Linked DNA regions of Homo sapiens: region 1 is reported to be linked to region 2. Evidence: microRNA targets listed by miRTarBase, many of them from high-throughput screens and not tested one by one. Region 2 holds a microRNA gene; the other region holds the end of a gene's coding sequence.

Region 1 (3,407 bases), not on the chromosome of region 2:
TAAAATAGAAAGTAAACTCCCCTCTCCATCTTTTCCAATTTCCAGCTGCAGTAGACAATATGGGCACCATTTTGAGGGGCAGGGAGAGAGGAAGACAGGCAACTATAAGTAGTTCTATGAAGATAAGTCTATATTGACTTGTCCTGTGGTCCATTATAGATGTAATTGCATGGCCACCTAACAGAGGAGAGGGGTTAGGATTTGGGGAGTAGCTACTTTGCTCTGCCTGCTTTCTGAGCCTCTAGCTTTTTTCTGTCTAGATGCCTCATGAATCAACGGTGGAGCACACACACGTAGATATCAATGAGATGGAGTCTCCTCTTGCCACCCGGAACCGCACATCAGTGGATTTCAAAGACACTGACTACAAGCGGCACCAGCTGACACGGTCAATTAGTGAGATTAAACCTCCCAACCTCTTCCCACTGGCCCCCCAGGAAATTACACACTGCCATGACGAAGATGATGATGAAGAGGAGGAGGAGGAGGAAGAATAAGGAGGAAAACCAAAACCCCAAGCACCCATTAAACAAGTCCTGGCAGGACTCACAGGAACAAACGAGGTCCCTGTTAGGGTTCTACTCGGGGGAGGGAGGGGGCTCCATGAAAGGTACGTCTGAAAAGTTTCTGAAGATTTTATTATCATAGATACTTGTTTTGGTTTTGTGTATCTGTACTCTCTGCAGATGGTCCAAAATTGTAATGGAGTCTGTATTAGAAGAAAATAAGGGTAAAATCAGGCTGAACTGCATGTATATGGCTCCACTGTGGCTTGTGACACTTTTAAAATCATCCGTATGTCAGTGTATCTGGATACACGAGGAAAAGGAAAGAGTCTCAGAGTGGAACAAAGAGTGGGAAGAGGTGATCTGTAATGTTACAAATTGTGCTATTACTCCAAGGTCCAACTTTTCCAGTGCATTACATGGTATTGTATATCAGTGGAGAAATGTATTATTTCCATGATCAAATGTAGTCTCTGTTAAGGTCAAGTTTTCTTTTATAAGCCTTTAATTCATCCTCAGTGACTCTGGCAAGGCTGCTTCTCTATCACTGGCTTTGCACAGAAGTATGCTCTACTTGCGTTGCTTTAGGGCAGGATTCTATTTTGAGGGAAAAGACAGTATCCTTATTACCTTTTGTTTGTTTAATAGCACAAATGCTTATTTGTTATCCAAAAACAACCTCCTTCTTATCTGTGATAAATCTATAGAAAGAATTTAGCTGCAAGTGGACAAAGGAACAAGCCCCCAGAAAAGAAAGGGAAGAACTGCCTTCTTATACTACAGAACATGCATTAGTGTGGGCTATATAGCTGTGGCTCATGCTACCCAATTCCAGATTTCTTTGTCCTCTAAGAGTTGATTGCTGTATATTAAAATTGAACATCAGAGGATGGGAAGAGGGCTCTGTAAGCCAGAACCTTACTAAAGTAGAGGGCACAATCAGTGTGAATAAATTCACTTCAGAATCTCAAGTCAAGGCCAGGCACGGCGGCTCACGCCTGTAATCCCAGCACTTTGGGAGGCCGAGACAGGCGGATCACCTGAGGTCGGGAGTTCGAGACCAGCCTTACCAACATGGAGAAACCCCATCTCTACTAAAAATACAAAATTACCTGGGCGTGGTGGTGCATGCCTGTAATCCCATCATCTACTCAGGAGGCTGAGGCAGGAGAATTGCTTGAACCCAGGAGGCGGAGGTTGCAGTGAGCCAGGATTGTGCCATTGCACTCCAGCCTGGGCAACAAGAACAAAACTCCATCTCAAAAAATAAAAATCCCAATCCCAAGTCGAAATCACCTCTTGTTTTAAACAAGAATGAATCATTACTGTGTATGTTAGGGTATTAAAACTGTTTCACCAGTACAGTGAAAGTTGTTTCAACATTTTAAACAAACAGTGGTTATAGACTCTTTCTTTAACCATTGTATATTTTCTTCCATTCTTGTCATTGGTCAATAGGGGAGGGTAGATTAGCTGCTCCAGAATTCAATAAAGTGTAATATTTCTAACGGTGACTTTGACCTATTCTGTAGTACAACTGTAATAGCTATTGGTCTTCAAGTGGGTTTAGATTTGGTGACATCAGTTTGATATTCTCTTAAAGGAAATAAATATTCAAGAACTGATTATGTTCTAACATGATTATATTCATGGTGTTACATAGGCCTCAATTTTTTCACAGAAAGATTTTTGGAACAGGACTGTGAAGTGAGGCTTTTTAAAAAATTATTTTATAAGCAGAGAACACAGCCTGATAACTTAGTCAAGGATATACTGTCTGTCTCACTACTTTGGACTTATATGGCTTCAGATTAAGTCATCCAAGAAACATACATACATTCTAAATGGTATATATTGGGAATATATGCCCCTTTAAAAGAATCAGGTCAGAAATGCAATAACAATTAGACTAGACTGTTGCCCGTGTTAGGAGAATGTGTGGTCATCCTAGTTACTAATTACTCTCACTCAAGATGGAGATGTTGTCCAGTTTAACATAGTCTTAAGTTTTCTTAAACCCAAATAATTTATGAGTAGCTTATTACATCTGCAGAGCTACCTTATTATAATAGTACATTTACATATTGTCTCTTTTAGAGTAAGGACCACATGATTGCTTTGCTTTAATTTACCACTTTTTGTATTGCATCCATATAAGAGTGTCTTACTAGCCAGATGATTCCATGGCAAATGATTCTCTGGGTCCAAAGATCGGAAAGTGAAAAGCACACAGCTGGAATAAGCAACAACTCCACTGCTAGTTACAGCTCTCCGTAGGACCACCAAAACGTATTCAAGAGCTCTAGGATTCCATAAGACCCAGAGCAAAATGGTGCCTCTCTGTATATTATTCTTAAGAGTGTGCTGGGAAGTCAATGGTCCATGGGTAGGCAGGGCAGCTGTAACTGGGCTTTTTAAAACAAATTATGAGTTTTCTCTCTGTTGCCAGTAGTTAAGGAAGCTGAACTTAAAAGGTATACTTTTTTCCTTAAAAAAAAAAAAAAAAAAAAAAAAAAAAAAAATCCTGCGGAGTTTTATACCGTGAGAAGACCATTCTGCCACTTCTTTTGAGAATTTTTTCCCAGGCATTTTGAAAACACTATAGGCATTGTAGAACACCAGGCAACCCCTTCTTGGTTGCTAGACTGAACTCCCAACCTTACAGCATGTACTGACAGGTCCCCTAGCCTCCCCAGCAGTTGGTCAGTGGTACAGCAGACCCAGGCCCTGCTGGGTTTCCTTGGGCAGAGGAATTGCCCAGTACATTCATTCATCTCTGCAAAGATAGATAGTCAGTGAAAACTCTGATGGTGTACTTCAGAAAAGTTGGTCACAGCCAAGAAAGTTTAGGGTTCTATTTAGACCTAAGATTTTTCTCTTGCCATAAGCATACCTCTGCTG
Region 2 (3,407 bases):
AGAGCACGTTCCTGCGCGTGTTGTCGGGGAAGCCACCGCTGGAAGGCCACATCCCCACCTGGGGCTTCAACTCCGTGCGTCTGCCCACCAAGGACTTTGAGGTGGACCTGCTAGAAAGTGAGCGGACACCCTACCCCATCTCCCCGTCTCCTCTACTGGACCAGTCCTGGATTCTCTGCAGGGAAGGGGGCTTCCAAAATGCATGTCTAAGCAGCACATTCCCCTCTACGAATCCTTCCCACCGCTCTCCGGGGCACAGGATTCAGCCCACGCTCTGTGCTCTGACATTTAGGGCCCTTCGTGATCGGGCCTCTCCAGCTGCACCGCCTGCCCCATCACCCCTACCAAAGTCGATAGGCCTAACACAGAGATACTAACAGCTAAGGGTTCATATGCCAAGCACTTGACGGGCATTGCTTAAGAAAACTCCCCTAAACAATTACATAAAACTAGAATCGGTCACTACCCTCGTTATCTCCAGAGGAAAATGAGTTCCAGCAGTAGTATCATGAATCCAAGGTCACCCACCTTTCTAGTCTTTTTTTTTTTTTTTTTTTTTTTGAGATGGAGTCTCACTGTGACACCCAGGCTGGAGTGCAATGGCGCTGTCTCGGCTCACTGCAACCTCCTCCTCCCGGGTTCAAGCGATTCTCCAGCTTCAGCCTCCTGAGCAGCTGGGATTACAGGCGCCCGCCACCACGCCCGGCTAATTTTTGTATTTTTAGTAGAGACGGGGGTTTCACCACATTGGTCAGGCTAGTCTTGAACTCCTGACCTCAAGTGATCTGCCCGCTTCGACCTCCCAAAGTGCTGGGATTACAGGCGTAAGCCATCGCACCCCACCATTCTAGTTTTTTTTTTTTGGAGACAGGGTCTCTGTCGCCCAGGCTGGAATGGCAGTGGGCAGTGGCACACCCTCCTCCACTATTGCCTGTCTGGCCCAAACTAGTGTCATCTTTCCTCTCAGCACCACAGCCTCCTCTTTGGTCTTCCTGCTTCCCCTTCTGTCCCTAGTGTCAGCTAGAGAAAACCCATGTCAGGTAATGTCACTCTTGCTTAAAGCCCTTGGGGGGCTCCCCACCCCCTCACTGTGGTCTTTGGCCCCATGTGGCCCGCCCCAGCCAGCCTCACAGCCATCTCTTTCTCCTTCTTGCAGTGCCTCAGCACCCCAGCCTTCTTTCTGTTTCCCAGACACTTCCAGCATGCTCTCCCCTCTGTCTGGAATGCTTTCCTCTGCCTCTTCCCATGGCTGGCTCCTTCTCATCATCCCACTCAGCTCACATGCCACTTCCTTGATGAGACCTACCCAGACCACCCAATCCAGGGCCAACCCCTGTTCCACCTCAGCCACTTTCCCTTTTTTCTGTTTTATTTCTTTCCTTTTTGAAATGTGTTGATGTCATTGCCATGTCCTTCCCAGTTAGGGAGGGAGCTCCTTGGTGCAGGGCCCCTGCTTGCCTTGCTCACCTCTGTATCTGCAGCACCCAGATCAGTGCTTGGCACCTAGCAAGCACTCAGTAAATATTTGTTGAGTGCCTGCTATGTGCCAGGCATTGTGCTGAGGGCTTTGTGGGGATTCAGAGGTAAGTGCCTCTGACTCTCACAGCTTAGAATCCTCAAGTGTCAGAAACATAGCCAGAAACACTAGGGTGCGGGGTGACCAATGGGACTGTGCAGAGGAGCAGAGAGGAAAAGAAAGGTGATCCAGGCTGGGGGACTGTGTTGGCAACCATGTGTTCATAGGATGAAATATGACATTTCCAAGGGAAAAGAAGGGGATGGGGGAAACTGAATGGAGAATGGCTGTGTATAGGCAGGGCAGGGGGTCCTGAGTTTTCTAGACAATAGGACTCCTGGCTCCTGTCACAGCCATCACTGACAGTTTTGAACCTGTAGGAGAAAGCTAGGAATTAGCAAGAGGCAAAGCCAGACAACCCAGGGGAGAGAACTGAAGACTTCCATTTACTGAGCACCTGTGTGTCAGTCCCGTGAAAGGTACATCGCACGTGGTACCTGTGGGTTTTACTGCAACAACCCGTTAGGAAAGTTCAGTGAGGAGACTGGTGCTTAAAGCTAGGGACTTGCCCCAAGAGACCCGCCTATCAGAGCTAGAGCTAAATCCAGTCTGAGTAGCTGCGGAAACTGCGGTCTTTTCCTTGCCCCCGGCTGGTGGAAGCTCACTAAGCTAGAAGCAGGGTGGGGTGGGGGCTGTGGGCAGTGAGCGGGGGCCCGGGGTGGGGTGGGGGCTGTGGGCAGTGAGCGGGGGCCCGGGGTGGGGTGGGGGCTGTGGGCAGTGAGCGGGGGCCCGGGAGGCTCTGAGCTGGCCCCTGGCCTCTCCTCAGTTGGGGGCAGCCAGAACCTGCGCTTCTACTGGAAGGAGTTTGTGAGCGAGGTGGATGTGCTGGTGTTTGTGGTGGACTCGGCTGACCGACTGCGGCTGCCCTGGGCCCGACAGGAGCTGCACAAGCTGCTGGACAAGGACCCTGACCTGCCTGTCGTCGTGGTGGCCAACAAGCAGGTGAGGGCTGTGAGAGGGCAGCTCGGTCCAGGTGACATCCACTCAGAGATGCTTGGGCAGGGGCAAGGAGCGCTGCCTGGGCCCATGGCCTGGAGAGGGTGGCTGAGATGCTGCCCCCACCTCTTCTACCTATGCCCTGTCCTGATCCCTGCCTCTGTCTTCCTTCCTCTTTGCCTCCCTATCATCTCGTACTCTGGAGAGATGAGAAAAATAATTATTAAGTGCCTCCTATATGCCAGGCATGGTGTTTTGTTTTTGTTTTTTTTTTGAGACAGAGTCTTGTTCTGTCGCCCAGGCTGGAATGCAGTGGTGTGATCTCGGCTCACTGCAACCTCCACCTCCCGGGTTCAAGCAATTCTTGTGCCTCAGCCTTCCGAGTAGCTGGGATTACAGGTATGTGCCACCACACCCAGCCAATTTTTGTATTTTTAGTAGAGGTGGAGTTTTGCCATGTTGGCCAGGCTGGTCTTGAACTCCTGACCTCAAGTGATCCGCCCGCCTCAGCTTCCCAAAGTGCTGGAATTATAGGCATGAGTCACTGTGTCTGGCCCCCAGGTGTGGTTTTGAATAACATTTCTTCTTATGCTTCTGTTGACCCTATAAAGTATGGGATGCTATTCCCATTTTATAGATGGGACAGGCTAGTCTTATAATCTTTCCAAGGTTGTACATCTTGAGAGTAATAGAATTGGTCCAGGCGTGGTGGCTCAAACCTCTACCTCCAACACTTTGAGAGGCCAAGGAAGGTGGATCATTTGATTCCAGGAGTTCGAGACCAGCCTGGGCAACATGGTGAAACTCCGTCTCTACAAAAAAAATGCAAAAAATTAACTGGGTGTGGTGGTGCCTGCCTATAGTGCCAGCTACTTTAGAGGCTGAGGCAGAAAGA

What was found. The annotated mature microRNA hsa-miR-1271-3p reads AGUGCCUGCUAUGUGCCAGGCA and lies in region 2 at 1,532-1,553, shown strand. An mRNA with a match to its seed (bases 2 to 7 or 8) in the 3' UTR can be bound and repressed. Matches are read on the target gene's strand: a 7mer-m8 pairs with bases 2 to 8, a 7mer-A1 pairs with bases 2 to 7 and ends in A, and an 8mer does both.
Region 1: miRTarBase lists NT5C2 as a target of hsa-miR-1271-3p. Seed matches in the 3' UTR shown: 7mer-m8 at 1,486-1,492.

Annotation. Positions count from the first base shown.
Region 1 is chr10:103,086,762-103,090,168 of GRCh38, reverse strand. It overlaps NT5C2 (5'-nucleotidase, cytosolic II), which reads left to right. Exons shown (of 19, transcript NM_001351169.2): 19 at 261-2,131. The coding sequence ends at 497. It overlaps CNNM2 (cyclin and CBS domain divalent metal cation transport mediator 2), which reads right to left. Exons shown (of 8, transcript NM_017649.5): 8 at 1-3,407. Among named protein-coding and RNA genes, the nearest start is that of NT5C2, 100 kb to the left of the region's middle.
Region 2 is chr5:176,366,465-176,369,871 of GRCh38, forward strand. It overlaps MIR1271 (microRNA 1271), which reads left to right and starts at 1,482; the gene lies at 1,482-1,567. ARL10 (ARF like GTPase 10) reads left to right here. Exons shown (of 4, transcript NM_173664.6): 2 at 1-117; 3 at 2,343-2,518.